Linked DNA regions of Homo sapiens: all the other regions are linked to region 4. A link means that fine-mapping ties the variant in region 4 to the expression of a gene that starts in the linked region. Tissue or cell type: whole blood. Region 4 holds a variant in brackets; each other region holds the start of a gene. Each region is shown on its reference strand, or each on the opposite one.

Region 1 (5,094 bases), not on the chromosome of region 4:
CATGAGTCTCCCCTTTGGGCAACAGGGAGAGAATTGGGGGAGCTGGGGCCAGGCAAGTGTTTGGGAGTGGGCTTCCCATCCCAGGAAAGGATCCCATCAGGGGCTGCTGAGCTCCGGGCAGGGGTTCACACCCACCATCTTCCCACCAGGGCACCTGTCAACGCGGGGACCAGTGCTGCTACTCCCACAGCCCCCCGACACCCAGGGTTTCTGCTGATGCTGCCCCTGACTGTCCAGAGACCTCCAACCAGACCCCCCCTGGACCTGGGGCTGCCGCTGGGCCAGGCATAGACTGAACCAATAAAGAGATGTCACGTCACCTTCTCCCGATTGCCTGTGGTTTGTGTATTGGTCCATACAGCTGCATGACTGGGATCTGTTCCTCTGGGGATCGTTCGCCCCTGCCTGGCTGGAGTGTTGAGTCTGTATGGGAGGTAGGAGCTGACCATCTGCACAGTGGTCGGCCCCTCTGCAGCGAGGGTCACTGAGCCACCCCAGAGCCGGAGCCAGCGATTCCCGAAGCGGCCACGGGGCGGCAGCTGTGCGCTCGCTCCCGCGGGGGTTCTGCCCCTCTTCCCCCTCCCACCTTCAGCGCTCTCCAGGCCACGGGCTTGCGCATAGTGGGGCGCTCCTGCCCGGTAGCCCCCACGTGTCTTCGCGCCGCTGCCTCCTCGCCGCCTGGTTTCTTTGGCCCAGCTCTCCAGGGGCCACAGTGGCGGAAGCTGGACCGGAACCAGGCGCCCTGTGCATCCGCTCCAGACCAGGTGCTTCCTGCCCTGAGGCCCGGGGCGAGGGGGGCGTGCACACAAAGAGGGACCTCGCAGGCTGCTGCCCAGACACCCAGTGAGGGGGAGCTGTACCCCTCCCTGCCCTCCAGAGTGGGGTTTAGTAACGTTAACGAAGAGTCCTGGGGCAGGATCCCCTCTCTGGCTCCTGCTCCCTTCATCCCCATCTGTAATGAGGCTAATCTTAGGACCCTCCTTGTAGCGATATCAGAGTTAGCGCTTAATTTTTTTTTTTTTTTTTTTTTTTTTGAGGCAAGGTCTAGGTGTGTGGCCCAGGCTGGAGTGCAGTGGCGCAATATTGGCTCACTGCAGCCTCCACCTCCCAGGCTCACGCCATCCTCCCACCTCAGCCTCCAGAGTAGCAGGGACTACAGGCACGCACCACCACAACCAGCTAATTTTTGTATTTTTTGTAGAGATGGGGTTTTGCCATGTTTCCCAGGCTGGTCTCAAACTCATGAGCCCAAGCAATCCGCCAGCCTCAGCCTCCCAAAGTGCTGGGATGACAGGCATGAGCCACCAAGCCCGGCCTTTACTGCATAAAACTTTAGTTCCTGCTTCTTTGGAGGAAAGCAATGGAGGTGTTGATCGTGGGGTCCTGGGCTCCACCCCATTCCTGGGCGGGGGGGGGGGGGGGTTGGTAGTCCTGCTGCTGGGTGCCTGCCTGCCTGGGGGCTCTTGCAGTTGCCCAGATACACAGACGGGCCAAAGCATGAGTATCACAAGTGGGTGGCAGTCTGGTAGCTGCTGCTGCCTGGCTGTGCCCAGAGCCTCTCCCTGTGGGAGGCTCCAGTAGGGTCTTGAGGTTTACCACCAAGCCAGGATAACTGCCCCCCATGAAGGGGCCGGGTGCTGTGGGGTGAGGGCCATGGACCACCAAGTTGGAGTTATGTGATCCTGTAGCCAAGAGGCCTATAGTTGTGGGGACCTGTTGGGCATCTACTGGAAGGTCACACCAGCCCCAGCACCCTAGGAAATCCAACTTCCCCACCCCACCCCTGACAGCCATGGCTCTTCCTCTCACCCTCCTGGGCTTGGAAATGTGTGGATACTGTGCTGAGGGCTTGGGACACCTGCCCAGGCTGGACACCCAAGGCCAGACTGTTAGAACTGTTCCCCTTTGGGTGCCCCACTCCCGGGTAGGGGTGGTGGAGAGGAGGGAAGGGCCTCTGTAAAAAGAGGAACCAGGCTGGGTGAGGAGAGGAGGTGGGGGCCCAGGGTCACGCGGCCCCAACGGGCCGGAAAGGGCTCTCCCTCACCCCCATCAGCACAGACATTCGGGCAGGGAGTGTGCAAAGCCAAAGGGCAGACTCGGACATAAGAGGAGGCAGCTTCCCTGCCTCAGTTTACCCCCTGCGTGCATCCAGGCACCTCCCTCCCCGGCTGCCCTGGGGCCCGGGTCCCCAGAGGCCCGGGGTCCCTACAGTGGCTGGGGGAGCGGAAGGCGAAGCCCTGAGGGGTGGCGGACCGAGTCCTGCCAGCGCCGGCTGGGGGCGGGGCCGGGAGGCCCGCGCTGCTAGGTCCCCGCCCGCTGGTTTCCTCCGGGGTCAGCCAGGCTCCTTATCAGGCGCGGCCAGGCAGCCTGGCCCTTATCTGCACTGGGCCAGCATCCTCCGGCCGCTGCGCCGCCAGGGGTGAGAGGGAGGAAACCGGGCCGCCGGGGGCGGGGAGAAGGCGGGCCGGCCCGGGAGCCGCTCACTTTCCCTGGGGGGGACCTACGCGGAGACCTCGGCTATCCTGGCCTTCCGAGGCCCACGAGGAGGCGCGGCCCAACGCCGGGGCCTGGAGCATTGAGGCCGGACCCTCGCGAGACAGCAGAGCCTGGCCTGACGCTGGAAACCACACCCTGGCCCAGACTGCCAGCCCTGACGGGACAGAGCCAGGGCACTCACCAGGCTGCAAGAACAGTGCTGGGGTAAGAGGGGAGCGGGCCTAAAGGTGGAGGATCCCGGGCCTGGGACCCAGCCTGCATTCCTTTGTTCATTCCTTCATTCATTCATTCACCAGCAGGGACCCACTAGTGAGGGGCCAGGCCTGCTTCCCCAGGGCCTAGCTGAGGAAGACAGGGCAGAGGGGCCAACAGTCTCACACCTTGCTGGGACATCCTGGACTCTGGAACCAAGAGCAAACAGGGATGTCAAAACAGTATGCAAAACTGTGGATGATCGCGGGGCATTGTGGTGCATGCCTGTAATCCCAGCACTTTGGGAGGCTGAGGCAGGAGGATCACTTGAGCCCAGGAGTTCCAGACCACCCTGGACAACAGAGTGAGAACCTGCCTCTACAAAAAAAATTTTTTTTTTTAAATTAGCCGGGCATGGTGGCACATGCCTGTACTCTCAGCTACTCAGGAGGCTGAGACAGGAGGATGGCTCGAGCCCAGGAATTTGAGGCTGCAGTGCACTATGATTGCACCACTGCACTCCAGCCTGGACAACAGAGGGAGACCCTGTCTCTAAAAAAATAAACAAATTTTAAAAAGCGTGGATGCTGATGAGGATGGGGGCTTCCAAGCCAGAGGGAGGGTTGGGGCATGACTGGACTGGACTGGGCAGTGGGGTCAGTGTTTGGGGGTCTAGGGTCAGCATTTGAGGTCATAGTGTCAGTAGTGGGGTCACAGGGTTGCTATGGGGGATGTTTGCAGTGGGAGTGGGGGTCACTCAAGCAATTATGGAGCACTTTCAGGGACAGCAATGGGAAGAACCGCAGGGTCATTCTTGAGGTGCAGAGGGTCAGCCTGGGTGGGGGCTGGGGGCCTTCCGTGAAGGGTCAGAGTCCATCTTGGAGGGATTCCAAGCTCACATGGCATCAATGAGTTAATGAGGAGTCTCTGGGTTGGATCTTTAGATCTGAGGATAACAGGGTTAATCTTGGGGTTTCTGGGGATCCCAGGATCAGTTAGGGGCTCCCTGTCTTGTTCCCTCTCCAGGCTGCAGAGGTGAGGGAATTCTGGAAGAAGGAATATTTGCTCAGAGGCTGGGCAACAGCGCCCCTCCTGGGTCACAAAGAGCTCAGGGACAGTGCGCTGCCTAGCACCTGGGGGGCGCCTCCTACTCTAACGTAGGACCCCCCTCCCGTGTCCTGGAAGTTTCTGGGCCTGCCCCCGCCATCTGCCTTTGCCTACTGAAACTTCTCTCCTCCTCCTTTCCCCCTCCCCCTCCCTCCTTCCCATTTGAGGGGTTTCTTGAGCTAAGCAGGTGGGAGCGGGGCACCTAGTCCTCCTCCCCACTGGCTGCCTTCTTTCCCACAGGTGAGTACCCCCACGTCGGGGTCCATGTGCCCGCCTCAGGCACAGGCAGAGGTGGGCCCCACCATGACTGAGAAGGCAGAGATGGTGTGTGCCCCCAGCCCAGCGCCTGCCCCACCCCCTAAGCCTGCCTCGCCTGGGCCCCCGCAGGTGGAGGAGGTGGGCCACCGAGGAGGCTCCTCGCCCCCCAGGCTGCCACCTGGTGTACCAGTGATCAGCCTGGGCCACAGCAGGCCCCCAGGGGTAGCCATGCCCACCACAGAGCTGGGCACTCTGCGGCCCCCGCTGCTGCAACTCTCCACCCTGGGAACTGCCCCGCCCACTTTGGCCCTGCACTACCACCCTCACCCCTTCCTCAACAGGTCAGTGGGGATCTGGGGTGGGGGGCAGTGGGGATTGGGGGCCAGGGTCCTTGCCCACAAGGCATTAGTGACCCACGACCCCTTACAGTGTCTACATTGGGCCAGCAGGACCTTTTAGCATCTTCCCTAGCAGCCGGTTGAAGCGGAGACCAAGCCACTGTGAGCTGGACCTGGCTGAGGGTGAGTGTGGGTTTGTGTGCCTTGTGGGTTTGTATGCCTGTATGTGCACTTGTGGGTGCACAGAAGGCCTGGCCGTCTCTGTGTGGGGCTCATGTCTGTCCTCTACTCCACCTCGGGGAGACGTGCTTCCAGCACACACAGAGAACAGCCCACATAGGTTCTACCCATGTGCAAAATCGCAGTCCCATAGCCAGCCCCACACAACCACCGCCACCCAACAGGCCAAGCCATGTAGCCGCAGTCACGGCAAAACAGAGCATGCCACACCAGGGCATGGGAGCCACAAAATGACAGCTCCACTGGAATGTGCAGCCACGCAAGACAGCCACAAGACCACAGCCATGCAAGAGACAGCCACAGGACCACAACCACACACAAGACAGCCACAGGACCACAGCCACTTAGGACCACGGCCACACAAGAGTCAGCCACACAACCACAGCCACTCGTGAAACAGCCACATGGCAACATCACACATAACCACAGCCATGAGACATAACAAGAGTCTCACACAGTCATA
Region 2 (5,081 bases), not on the chromosome of region 4:
TAGTTTTCACATTGAGATAATTGTGGCACCATAGGTTCAAAAATGTAAATCAGACCGGGCGCGCTGGCTCACACCTGTAATCCCAGCACTTTGGGAGGCCAAGGTGGGCGGATCACGAGGTCAGGAGTTCGAGACTAGCCTGACCAACTGGTGAAACCCCGTCTCTACTAAAAATACAAAAATTAGCCGGGCGTGGTGGCAGGTGCCTGTAATCCCAGCTACTCAGGAGGCTGAGGCAGGAGAATCACTTGAACCCAGGAGGCGAAGGCTGCAGTGAGCCGAGATCGCACCACCGCACTCCAGCTTGGGTGACAGAGCAAGACTCCATCTCGAAAAACAGCAAAAAAAATGTAAATCAGAGCCAGGTGTGGTGGCTAATGCCTGTAATTCCAGGACTTTGGGAGGCCGACATAGACAGATCACTTGAGCCCAGGAGTTTGAGACCAGCCTGGGCAACATGGGGAAACTCCATTCTCTACAAAAAATACAAAAATTAGCTGGGTGTGGAGGTGCGAGCCTGTATTCACAACTACTGGGGAGGCTGAGGTGGGAGGATCACCTGGGATGGGGAGGTCGAGGCTGCTGTGAGCTGAGATCACACCATTGCACTGCAGGCTGGGTGACATACCCTGTCTCAAAAAAAAAAAAAAAAAAAAGGCCGGGCACGGTGGCTCATGTCTGTAATCCCAGCACTTTGGGAGGCTGAGGCAGTCGGATCACCTGAGGTCAGCAGTTTGAGACCAGCCTGGCCAAAATGGTGAAACCCTGTCTCTACTAAAAATACAAAAATTAGCCGGGCGTGGTGGTGTGTACCTGTAGTCCCAGATACTAGGGAGGCTGAGGCAGGACAATCACTTGAACCTGGCGGGCAGAGTTTACAGTGAGCCAAGATAGCACCACTGCACTCCAGCCTGTGCAACAGAGCAAGACTCCATCTCGAACAAACAACAATAACAAAAAAAAAAAAAAAAATGAGGAAAGAGTTCAACAGAAAGACCACCTGAAAAAGGGGTAAACAATATGAAGAAAATTCACCAATACAAGATCCACCACCCTCCAAAGAAAGACTAAAAAATATGACAAATTGCTCAACTTCATTCATAATAAAAAAAGAAATATGAAAGTGCCTTCGGTTTTTACCCATCTAATTGGCAAGGATAAAACATTTGATAACACACTGTGTGGTTCAGGGTGTAAGGAAATTGGCGGGGCGCGGTGGCTCACGCCTGTAAACGATTCTCCTGTAAGCGAGTCTGCTGCCTCAGCCTCCCGAGTAGCTGGGATTACAGGCATGCGCCACCACGCCCAGCTAATTTTTTGTATTTTTAGTAGAGACGGGGTTTCACCACATTGGCCACGCTGGTCTTGAACTCCTAACCTCAGGTGATCCGCCCGCCTCGGCCTCCCAAAGTGCTGGGATTACGGGCGTGAGCCACCGCGCCCGGCCTGTCCTATGGAGTTTACAATTAATAACTCTCTTAATCATCACAATAGCTCAACGAGAGAGGTTGGTACTATTACCCATTTTACAATTGAGGACATTGAAGCACAGAGCAGTTGAGAAACTTGCCTAACTAGCAGAGTTAGAATCCAGACAAAGTGCTTAACCACAAGGCGATGCTTCTTCTATATATAAACTGACGGACGGATGAAATAGGCTGATTGACTGATGAGTGACTGACTGACTGACTGAATGAATAAATGGAAATGTGATTATAAATGTTGATTTTTTGCGCCTCCCGATTCCCCAGATCTACCGCGAGGGGGCGATCTCTCCCCGGTCCTGATGCCAGTCACTCAAGGCGCGCACTCCCTTTGCGTCTCGGGCTCGCGCGCGTTGCCGCGGCACCGGAAGTGACTGAGCTTGCAAGTTCCCCTGTCTCTTCAGGGGAAACTGAGGCCGGCTTGTTCGGGAGAGACGGCGCGAGCAGTCAGCCAGGTAGGCCGGCAGCCAGGTAGGCCGGCCCGGGTCCGCGGCGCGGAACTCGGCCGCGAAGAGCTCTTGCGTCTGGAAGCTACCGGGCCGATGAAGGGGGATGTGGCCCCCCACGGCTCGCGGGGCTCGCAGGTGAGAGCGCCGCCTCCCCTGTGCGTGACAGCCGTTGCGCCCAATAGGAGCCTTCGCCGTCCCGCTTCCGTGCCGGCTGGGCTCGCTGATTGGCTGCGCTGGGGCGGACCGCCGGGGGCGAGGCCCCTCCTCTCAGGAAGGTCTAGGGGGCGCCCCCGGGGGAGGGCGGTTGCCTAGCAACGGGGCGGTGGCTCGGCGGGTACCCGGCCTAGTGAGCTCGAGAAGCCGCTAGGCCGCAGCCGGCCCACCCTGGGCTCCGGAGAGGTGCAGCCCCCGGCCCCGGAGCCCTCCCGGGGGCGCCAGAAAGCCACTTTGGGCCTGTCCCCAGGAAAACGTGGTCTCAGCTGTGGGGCCGTCGAGCAGGCCTCGACCCCTCTTCCTGACCTGAGGAGAGGCCCAGCGCCTCACCCTCACCCAGTCTTTGTGCAGGGCGCCGGCGGCCATTGTGTCCGGGCGGGGAATGGAGGACCCGGCAATCCCCAACTGCCACGTTCTGGGCCTTTGGGGAATTCAGAGCAAACCAGCGGCATTTGTTGGGGGTCTCCGGCCTTCAACATCACAGACAGGCCTGGGGGTGGCCTTCCCAAAGTCAGATTGCAGATCTGAGGCAGTTTCCCCCTCCCTGCGTCCCTCACTGAAACCTTGAACCCCATTGAGAAGTCCCTTTAGGGTTTCGGACGCCTCCACCTCACCCTGGGCTGGTGCTTAAATAGAAAAAAGAAAAACAAAAACCAACTAAATCCATACCAGCCACCTCCGGGAGAGTACTCCTGGCTCCCAGTAGGAGGCGGAGAGCCAAGGGGCGTGCAAGAGAGAGGGGGCTGGGCTCCCGGGTGGCAGGAGGCCGCGGCTGCGGAGCGGCCGCCCTCGATCCGGGCGATGGAGGAGGAAGCAAGCGAGGGGGCTGGTTCCTGAGCTTCGCAATTCCTGTGTCGCCTTCTGGGCTCCCAGCCTGCCGGGTCGCATGATCCCTCCGGCCGGAGCTGGTTTTTTTGCCAGCCACCGCGAGGCCGGCTGAGTTACCGGCATCCCCGCAGCCACCTCCTCTCCCGACCTGTGATACAAAAGATCTTCCGGGGGCTGCACCTGCCTGCCTTTGCCTAAGGCGGATTTGAATGTAGGTGGTGCGGGGGAGCGGGAGTGGGGCGGGGGGGACTGCCCAGGGAGTGACTTTCCGAGGAAGGCATTTCGGAGAAGACGGGGGTAGAAAAGGCTGGTGGGAGATTCAGAGTCCACTGGTGCTTTCGATTTGACTTAAGTGAAGTATCTTGGAACCTAGACCCAGACCTTCGTAAGACCCACAAAGAAACCAGTTCTGGTACCTGGAGGGGGAATGGAATTTTTAGGGTAAATGGCATGCATATTAATTATTTTTTTTTCCTGAAGCTCTTTCTCTCCCTTCAGAATCTTATCTTGGCTTTGGATCTTAGAAGAGAATCACTAACCAGAGACGAGACTCAGTGAGTGAGCAGGTGTTTTGGACAATGGACTGGTTGAGCCCATCCCTATTATAAAAATGTCTCAGAGCAACCGGGAGCTGGTGGTTGACTTTCTCTCCTACAAGCTTTCCCAGAAAGGATACAGCTGGAGTCAGTTTAGTGATGTGGAAGAGAACAGGACTGAGGCCCCAGAAGGGACTGAATCGGAGATGGAGACCCCCAGTGCCATCAATGGCAACCCATCCTGGCACCTGGCAGACAGCCCCGCGGTGAATGGAGCCACTGGCCACAGCAGCAGTTTGGATGCCCGGGAGGTGATCCCCATGGCAGCAGTAAAGCAAGCGCTGAGGGAGGCAGGCGACGAGTTTGAACTGCGGTACCGGCGGGCATTCAGTGACCTGACATCCCAGCTCCACATCACCCCAGGGACAGCATATCAGAGCTTTGAACAGGTAGTGAATGAACTCTTCCGGGATGGGGTAAACTGGGGTCGCATTGTGGCCTTTTTCTCCTTCGGCGGGGCACTGTGCGTGGAAAGCGTAGACAAGGAGATGCAGGTATTGGTGAGTCGGATCGCAGCTTGGATGGCCACTTACCTGAATGACCACCTAGAGCCTTGGATCCAGGAGAACGGCGGCTGGGTAAGAACCAAGCCCCTTGTGTGTCCCTTTTCTTTGGCCTCTGGTCAGAGATCCCCAACAGCCCTTCTTCTGTATCTCTTTCTGTTGTGTTGGGTGATTGTTGGAGACGTTGATAGTTGAGGAAACCTGACTGGCCTCATTTCACCACAAGAGGTTAACTCCTTGGAAATACAAATGACCCTGTGCTTCAGAGATCAGGCATCTTTCACCCTGGTCACCCCCATGACTCCACTATTCCATACTTGTGTTCCAGTTTCTCAGCAAAGAAAACTGTAGCCTATGTGTTCATTAAGTCCCAAACCTGTGAGGGTAGGAAGTTAGTTCGGTGTTTCCCTTACCTTATACAATGGTTCACACACAAAGGGGTGATGAGTATAATGCCTGGAGAAGATGATGAGCATCAATGACCCACAGACCTCTCCATCTGTTCCCCCCAAGGGGTCTCAGTCCTATCCTGGGCTTCTCTCCCCCAAATCAAGTTCCCTTTATTTCAAAGTTTGCGTGTATGGCACTCTCCTCTCAGACTAGGGCATGGCCATAGGCAGGAGTTCCCACTGGGTTGAATGGCTGAGAATTGTCAGATTTTGGGGCAGTGTAGGCTGTGCAGATTGTGTTTGCACTGCGCCCCCTAAGTTCATTTCCCCCAAAGTGTGCGACTTTCTGCATGGTTGCCTTGTTTGTGGAGCACTTGCTGTGTCACACATTAAGCCAGGGGACTTTGCACCTCATTGCCTGGGGTCGGTTGGGGAGCTCCAGCTGCTCTGCCTGTTACTTTCCGGCCAGAGCCCAGGGGCCTCTTCAAGCACTGTTTGCTGGCAAAGCAAGAACCTAGTCTTTGGGGCTCTGTGGGACATTGAGATTTAGTAACAGACTTCACATGCAGGTATAAGTTCCAGTTCTGTCATGTAACTAGCTGTGTGACCTTGGACAGGC
Region 3 (4,000 bases), not on the chromosome of region 4:
GAAAGTGCCTCCAGCACGTGGGGCTGGCCCTCCTGGCAGAACTGCTTGAACATGTGTTTGTCGTCTCCTGCCATCTTACATGAGTAGCTCTCAATCCTATAGGATGCAGAGAGAACCATGAAGCATGCTTCCCCCAGGTTCCACTGAAGGGCGCGGCAGTGTGACCTCCGAGATGCCAGCCCCCCCAGCCTGCCTCACCTGCCAATGATGTGGGCATCTCCAGTCTCCACAGTCAGCTGTGAGTTGATGGCTTCAAAGCTCGAGTTCTCCAATAGCTTCATGTCTTTGGGGAAGGAGCTCCGTGCTCCAGAGGGGCTAGTATTGCCTGGGGAGTGAGAGACCAGACCATGGGTATCTATCTGGCCCCTTGGGGCCCTGCCTTCAGCCCTCCTACCCACTAAGTGGAGCCGCTAGGAACAAGCTGAGTCTGGCCTCTGTCCAGGCTGCACATCAGGAGCTCCCCTCTCTGCCCGGCCAGGAGAGGTGACAGAGATCCTGTTTTACCTGAGGGTGGTAAGTCCAGGCTCCAGGTCAGCCATACCCCCTGCAGAACACGCGAGTTCTGGGACTAGACTAGACCACCGGGGACCCTGCTCACCCTGGGGCTGCTGGCTGAGATTGTTGCTCAACATTCCCATTCCCCATCTCCACGCCCACTCCAAAAGAGCTCCAGCCACCATGGGGGTAACTCTTGAGTCCGCAACGGGACGTGACTCCTGCAGTCTCCCTCAGGCTGGCTGGGCTCCTCAGCCAAGGTAAGAGGCTGCATCCCGGTTAGGAACCAGGACACCTGGGACTCCGGGCCCTGCGGTCACCTGGGCGGGCGCTCTTTCGTTTTGGCTACTTTCTGGCCCGGGGAGAGGAAAACTACAGGTTCCTCCACTCTACCCGGAAAAATTGCCTAGTTTCTCCAGACGCCTAGGAGGGCGGTCCCTCGGCCCCGCTGGGGCGCTGCAGTCACCAGGCAGCGCCCGCCTGGGCCACGTCGGGCACCAGCCAAGCCGCGGTGGAACTACAAATCCCAGGAGGCAGCGCGCCGCGCGAGGCCTGCTGGGGGCTGTGGTTCCGGGTACGCAGACGGCGCGGGACGCAGGGCGGACACCCACCTGCCTGGCTGGGTTAGATCAGGCCGCGCCGGGCCGGGTCTGGCTGGGCTGGGTCGCTCCGCGTCGGTGCCGGTGCGCAGGCGGGGGCGGGCTCCGCGCAGCGCGGGCTCTTCAAGATCGGAGGGCGGCGCCGCGGCCTCCGCTCGGGCCGCACTGTATCCGGGGGAAGAAGCTCCGCGGCGACGTCCCGTTACTCCCGGCCCTGCCGGCCCATCCGGGCTGCCACCGCGACATAGCCTCGCCCCCTTCCACAGAGCCCGCTCTCGCGACCGACCTGCCGCCGACCGCCACAGAGCGCTCCGGCGAGTCAGCGAGCCGAGCGAGCGAGCGAGCGACCTCCGCCTCCCCCGGCCGGACAACAACAAGCGTCCGCCGGGCCCGGCCCCGCGCCTCTGAATGGCCCGCTCCAGTCTCCGAGATCGAGAGCTCGAATAGCCATCGGGTGCCGTACCCGCCACTCAGTTCTGCCTTCTACGTCTACTGGTTATGGAGCCTGTCTGTCACTCTTCTCGTCGTACTAACCCGCTTACCCCCGGCGTTCATTGGCCGTGGCCTCTCTAGCTCCGCCCCCTAGGGGGGTCGACCCCGTAACCAGTGAGGCGCGGGCCAACCTAGTGCGACGTGTGGGCGTGGCGGGGGCTGGGGTCTGCGGGCGAAGGTGGCAGCCCATTGGAGGTCCCGGGAGCGAAGTCCAGCTGCCGTTAGGCGCTGGGATAGTCGCACGCTGGATGCATCTACGTCCGCCGAGCCCCTGGGGCGAAGAGGCCGCGTCCGCCTTCAGTTGTGGCCGGTGCTTCGCCCCCTGACCCTTCGCCCCCAAAGACCAGCTCTAACGTGAGCGCCTCGGCCGCCCTGCCCCAGCCTCGTACACGCCGCCAGCCTCGCCCAGCCGGTGTCCGGAGACCCTCGGGCCGTGTCCATTTGTGGGCAAAGCCAGCGGGGCAGGCTTGGCCAGAGTGCACCACTCGGCGCCGTCCCAGGCCCGACGCTCTGGGCGCGCCCGGAACCCCAGGTTCGCGGCCCGTGTTTCCGACCGGCGGAGGGGGCTCAGCGGCCCGATCCCACGGAAGCGCGCTCGGAGGGGTGGGACCCGGCCGGACCGGAGATGGCGCCGCCAGCGGGCGGGGCGGCGGCGGCGGCCTCGGACTTGGGCTCCGCCGCAGTGCTCTTGGCTGTGCACGCCGCGGTGAGGCCGCTGGGCGCCGGGCCAGACGCCGAGGCACAGCTGCGGAGGCTGCAGCTGAGCGCGGACCCTGAGCGGCCTGGGCGCTTCCGGCTGGAGCTGCTGGGCGCGGGACCTGGGGCGGTGAGTGGGGGCGGAGGGCGCGCGGTCAGTCCTCTTGGCCCGGGCAGGGCACGGAGCCCAAAGTTAGGCCCCTCCGCTTGCCACCTGGGTGCCCTTAAGCAGTTATGTTTCTTTGCTTCTGTTTTCTCGTCCGTGAAATGGGGGTGACGCTCGGACCTACTGGGACCTACCTGGACCTACTTTACAGGGCTATTGTGAGGATTTGATGATAGGCGTACAGGGCTTAGGACCGTGTAAATGGTCTATAAATGTTACCTTGTATTTCTTTGCTCCTCGTGCGATGTAGGGCGGGGGGACGCCCTGAGCCTGGACTCTCCCTCTTCTCAGGTTAATTTGGAGTGGCCCCTGGAGTCAGTTTCCTACACCATCCGAGGCCCCACCCAGCACGAGCTACAGCCTCCACCAGGAGGGCCTGGAACCCTCAGCCTGCACTTCCTCAACCCTCAGGAAGCTCAGCGGTGGGCAGTCCTAGTCCGAGGTGCCACCGTGGAAGGACAGAATGGTCAGTGCCCTGTAATGGATACAATTACAATTTGGAATAGCCTTGGCCCCCCAGTCCTGGTTGGGGAAGTTGGATCCACCTTCCCCACTGCTGGATGTCTGGGAAGGCTTCCAGGAGGGAGTAGGTGGAGCCTGGAGTAGCTTGGAGTACTTGGAGTGGCTGCTGGAGTCAGTCTCCTACACCATCTGAGGCCCCAGCCAGCACAAGTTGCAGCCTCCACCAGGAAGCCCTGGAACCTCAGCCTGCACTTCCTTAACCCTCAGGAAGGATGAGAGGCAAGCATGAAGAGGCAGAGCAGGCAGGGTCAGGACCTGTGTGAGAAGACATCATCCCAAGAGCAGCAGGAGAGTGACAGGAGTGGGAGAGTGACAGACTCAGATACCTCCTGCTTAAGACAGAGTTCTGCAGTGGCAAGGGTTGGTGCAGATAGGGTTGGGGAGAAGGATGTTTCTAGAGATGCTTAGAAGATGGAATTAGTGGCCGGGTGGGGTGGCTCACGCCTGTAATTCCAGCACTTTGGGAGGCCGAGGTGGGTGATCACCTGATGTCAGGAGTTTGAGACCAGCCTGGTCAGCAAGGTGAAACCCTGTCTCTACTAAAAATACAAAAATTAGCCAGGCGTGGTGGCGTGTGCCTGTAGTCCCAGCTACTTGGGGAGGCTGAGGCAGGAGAATCACTTGAACCCGGAGGCAGAGGTTGCAGTGAGCTGAGATCTTGCCACTGCACTCCAGCCTGGGTGACAGAGCAAGACTCCATCTCAAAAAAAAAAAAAAAAGAAGATGGAATTAGCTGAGTTTCATGGCTGCTTGGGAGGTTTTTTGCAGACAAAGACTCCCTCTCTCACCCAGACTGGAGTGCAGTAGCGTGACCCTAACTCACTGGAGCCTTGAACTCCTGGTCTACGGTGATCCTCCTGCTTCAGCCTAAGTAGCTGTTATTGGCATGAGCCACTGCCCCTGGCTCACATGGCTGCTTAAATGGAAGAGTTAGCAGTTGAGACTGAGAAACATGAAGGACTAGGTAGTATGGGGCTCCCAGATAGAGGGCAGCCCACAAACGAGATAAGCAGAGCTGCCAGAGGGGTAG
Region 4 (4,000 bases):
TTTCTCTCTTCATGTAGTACAACTAGGCACCAGTCCTATTTTTGTTTTTGTTTTATTAACACAATTTTAATTGTTCACAGTGAACTAATTAAGATAGAAAAAGCTCCAATTAATACACCTATGGCTTAGAAAGGGAGAAATGGGTACTTCTAAAGAGTACAAGAAAGGAAACAGCAGGTTCAAAATGATGGTTCTTTTATGGGATTAGCTTTTTTTTTCTTTTTTGAGATGGAGTCTTGCTCTGTCACCAGGCTGGAGTGCAGTGGCATGATCTTGGCTCACTGCAACCTCCTCCTCCCGGGTTCAAGTGATTCTCCTGCCTCAGCCTCCCGGGTAGCTGGGACTACAGGCGCGCACCACCATGCCCAGCTAATATTTGTACTTTTGGTAGAGATGGGGTTTCACCATGTTGGTCAGGATGGTCTCGATCTCTTGACCTTGTGATCAGCCCACCTCGGCCTCCCAAAGTGCTGGGATTACAGGCGTGAGCCACTGTGCCTGGCCAGGATTAGCTTTTAAATGATTGTTTTGGTGCCATGTGCAATCTTCCTGGATCCTGAGGTTGGAGCATTTCCTCAGCTGCCCTGCTAGGCCTGTTTCATGTCAGCCAACTTCCGGGTCCAGGATCTCCATATAACAATTTAGGGGAAAACATTCAACAGGTTGAAGAACAGGCTTAGGGATATTTTCCCAGTGTTGTAACCTTCTTGCTTACTCTTTTTTGGAAGAAATACTACTTTTTTGTAAAAATGATATTTGCTGATTCTAAAGACACTGAGTAGACAGAAGCACTATGATGGCACCTCTAGAAATTACCCCCAAGTTTTATAATTTAAGGAGAATCATATGCAAAGAAGAAAATGCAAAAATGATAATGAGAACGGGGTAAGAAAGCTTGGTTCATGCTTTAAAAGGAGAAGGGAAAGGGACATTCAGGCAATCAAGAAAGGCTGAAGAAAACTAAGAGGGCTGGAGGAACAATGATTAGATAGGAAGGCTCTTGTCAGGGATCGTGGCAGGGGTGAAGAGTGTGAGGTCCTCAATATAAGTGAAAAATGAAATTTAATTTTGTCATTCCAAATTTTATTCTAATAAGGGAGATTTGTGCTGGATCACTGGGCCAAAATGATAAGGAAGGGAAATGCTACAAAATAACTGGGCTGCCCATAAGAGTGTGGGTCACACGGCGGGCAGGAGGGGCTTGGGGTGTGTGCATGGAGAGCCACCTTTCCATATCTAGGCCCTGTCAGGACATGCTGGGGCAGCGCCGGGCAGAGCCACATGGTGATGACTGGCTGTGTTCCCTGCCACATGGAGAGGAGAGGCACAGCAGGCAGTGCGGAAGGGACGACATGGGGCTGCGGAGCTCGGCAGTCGTCAGAGTGTCTGCAGCGTGGGCCACAAGGCAAGAGCCTTTGATCAACTGTTTAGCATGTGCTCTAGCTGATGTAACTGCACACGTGTTTTAGATGTGGTTTTCCCAGTAGCACACTCTTACAGAAGCAACAGGTTAAACTGTTGCTGCCGGTGTAAAAGGGAGTTCGGCAAAGTGAAGGACTAAAGACTGAAGGAAATGTTTTGACTGTTAAGCTGGACTTGGCTTCCTGAAATGGGGTTATTGTATGTGCATTTCACACGTTCTTGAGGTGTAGGACATATCACTTCTGACTTCAAATGAGAACAAACATGCAAAGAAAGGGCTGAGGAGTTTAAATCCATTTCTGTGGCCTTTGTCCACCTAAGCGATCAACTGAAGAGAACTCTGGAGGCTGTGCTCAGCTCCTCCTCAGGCTCTGCAGACAGACACGGCCATTC[C/T]CTCTCATCCCCAGGGCTGGCAGGGTGTCAGCCTCAAAGATTCCAGAAGCCCAGGCCCTGCTTCAGGGAGGCCAGAGATAAGTAATCTCCCCCAGGACACACAGAGGGTGGATCCTCTGCTGTCCCTCCCTTCCAGAAGCCCAACGGGTCCCTGTCAGAATTCCAAGCAGAAGGTGACTCAGCACAGAGGAGGAGGGATGGGAAGAACAACTCAGTTGCCCTCTTAATCCCGCCGCTCTCGGCCATGGGTACAGTCCTGCACACTTTGTGTCTTTAAGTGGTTGCTAATCTTTAAGGAAGGGGTATTTGTGTAATACTCTGCTGAGAAATCCTGGGGAGTCAGCCAGCCTCTGGTGACCTGACCCCACTACAGGTGGAGGTCAAGTCTTCAGTCCTGCCTTGGCAGTTTCTTCTGCCTTCCTCCCAGAAAGTGGATTTCTCAGGCATGAGCTCAAGCTGAGAGTCTGGTGATGGTAAAGATCAGAGTGCAGGCAATCTGGCATAACTGTAGCTGAACTGGCTGTCTGCAGAGGAAAGCAAGGGGCTGAGGAGCGTGGAATTGGGTGGGTGCATCTGGTCTGGTGCACTGGTGCACACACATGTGTACATGAGTGACCACGTGTGCACGTGTGTACATGTGTATGTACATGTGCAAATGACACACAGAGATCGCCCTTTCTACACATATATTTAAAAAGGCAGCTCAGTAAAATCGACTCACAGGTAGAGAGTCCATTATTTACTGTGACTTTTCCATGCAGAAGGACAGTGGTGCGGCCAAATAGGCAGCAGTCTCCACTGTTCGGAATGTCAGATCAGCTCCTCCTCACTCTGCGCACATTCCCCCGCCTGCCAGCTCTGTGGGCAGAAGGCTGCAGGAGTCAGATCTGGTCTCTACAAGACTCAGAAGTCAGGATGAAATTCATGTTTCCTCCATTTCTTAACAAAGAAGCACACCTGTAGAGATTTCTGAGCAAGGAATTGTGACTTGTTGCAGAATTTATTTTATTTTATTTTATTTTTTGAGACAGGATCTTGCTCTGTGGCCCAGGCTGTAGTGCAGTGGCTCGATCACAGCTCACTGCAGTCTTGACCTCTTGGGCTCAAGCAATCCTCCTGTCTCAGCCTCCCGAGTGCCTGGAACTATTGGAATATGCCACCATGCCCAGCTAATTTTTGTATTTTTTTGTAGAGACAGGGTTTTACCATATTGCCTAGGTTGGTCTGAAACTCCTGAGCACACATGATCCTTCCACCTCAGTCTCTCAAAGTGCTGGGATTACACGTGTGAGCTACCGCACTTGGCCATAATTCTGTATCTTGATAAGAAACTCACAAGTGGCTGTGAGAAGACATAAGGAAGGAGATGTGGCTACTTTAAGCCGTTTAACGTTTCATGTAAACTTATGTCTAACCAGGGAAAAAAAACTCCAAGGACTTTGTAATATATAGTTCTCTTAAGAAACTCTTTAAGGCTTTTTTTTTCTTTTTCTTCTTTCCCTTCTCTCTTCCTCCACCTCTCCATGGTCGTCTCACTATTTCCTAAAAAGCCCCGTGCTGTATAAATGCTAGGCATATGTTATTTTATTTAGCCCTTACAATAAAGCCTTGGCTTGTGAGTGATCAGCATTGGCTGCAGCACCCTGCCTCCAACCACCTGAAGGTGTTTACAGACGGCCTCTGCCTCTGAGTAGCTCTGGAGTCCGAGCCATGCACAGGACATCACCAAGCCTCAGCTTCCTCACGTATGAAACCAAAGAAAACGCCAGCCTCATGTCACCATACAGCTGGAGAGTCACAGAGCAAAGGTGCCAGGTCCCCGCCATTAGCTGGCGCTCAGGAAATGCTGGCTGCCCCTCTCCTGCCCCGTCCCACAGCCTTCACGCGAGATTGGCCCACTACTCACACACCTCTGGCTTCCTGGCACTTCTGTCAAAACCTCACATCTCTTAGGAAGAAACTTCAAATGTCATGTTTTTTCCTAGTAGATATCAGCTGTTTCTTAGGATGAGAGTGTCTCAAAAAGTCCTGTCCTTCACATCAACAACACTTCTTCGAAGTAAGGGGGGTTCCTCCCTTTCTTTCCCATCTTTCTAGTTTTATGATTCAACAACCATTTACCAGGAAATATCTGGAAACGACTAATTTGGGTCACACACTCTTCCCATTTACAAATCGAACAACT

The links. PIP is the estimated chance that this variant, and not a neighbour inherited with it, causes the effect.
Region 1: LYL1 starts here. The variant in region 4 is the best candidate, but not a certain one, in a credible set for the expression of LYL1 in whole blood (TOPMed, PIP 0.88).
Region 2: BCL2L1 starts here. The variant in region 4 is the best candidate, but not a certain one, in a credible set for the expression of BCL2L1 in whole blood (TOPMed, PIP 0.81).
Region 3: SHARPIN starts here. The variant in region 4 is fine-mapped to the expression of SHARPIN in whole blood (TOPMed, PIP 0.92).

The regions. Positions count from the first base shown.
Region 1 is chr19:13,100,137-13,105,230 of GRCh38, reverse strand. LYL1 (LYL1 basic helix-loop-helix family member) reads left to right here and starts at 2,373. Exons shown (of 4, transcript NM_005583.5): 1 at 2,373-2,700; 2 at 4,036-4,394; 3 at 4,483-4,574. The coding sequence starts at 4,060. LOC105372282 (a long non-coding RNA gene) reads right to left here and starts at 815. Exons shown (of 2, transcript XR_001753871.2): 1 at 587-815; 2 at 325-423. It overlaps TRMT1 (tRNA methyltransferase 1), which reads left to right. Exons shown (of 17, transcript NM_001136035.4): 17 at 150-324. The coding sequence ends at 296. RefSeq lists enhancers at 631-690, 602-896, 831-910, 4,874-4,933, 4,993-5,094, cis regulatory regions at 320-900, 1,700-2,620 and a silencer at 1,991-2,600.
Region 2 is chr20:31,720,722-31,725,802 of GRCh38, reverse strand. It overlaps BCL2L1 (BCL2 like 1), which reads left to right and starts at 2,935. Exons shown (of 3, transcript NM_138578.3): 1 at 2,935-3,185; 2 at 3,455-4,148. The coding sequence starts at 3,585. RefSeq lists enhancers at 1,837-2,036, 1,806-2,560, 2,567-2,626, 2,561-3,316, 4,958-5,077 and silencers at 2,067-2,516, 2,723-3,017, 2,917-3,026, 3,077-3,196.
Region 3 is chr8:144,101,965-144,105,964 of GRCh38, reverse strand. It overlaps SHARPIN (SHANK associated RH domain interactor), which reads left to right and starts at 2,192. Exons shown (of 9, transcript NM_030974.4): 1 at 2,192-2,412; 2 at 2,740-2,914. The coding sequence starts at 2,212. MAF1 (MAF1 negative regulator of RNA polymerase III) reads right to left here and starts at 1,504. Exons shown (of 8, transcript NM_032272.5): 1 at 1,107-1,504; 2 at 199-325; 3 at 1-96. The coding sequence starts at 281. RefSeq lists enhancers at 905-1,199, 1,951-2,000 and silencers at 1,061-1,300, 2,061-2,340, 2,351-2,450.
Region 4 is chr7:50,358,100-50,362,099 of GRCh38, reverse strand. The region is part of intron 3 of IKZF1 (IKAROS family zinc finger 1); the gene reads right to left. Among named protein-coding and RNA genes, the nearest start is that of IKZF1, 55 kb to the right of the region's middle. RefSeq lists enhancers at 812-1,329, 1,330-1,849. The variant C/T (reference allele first, on the strand shown) is at 1,816.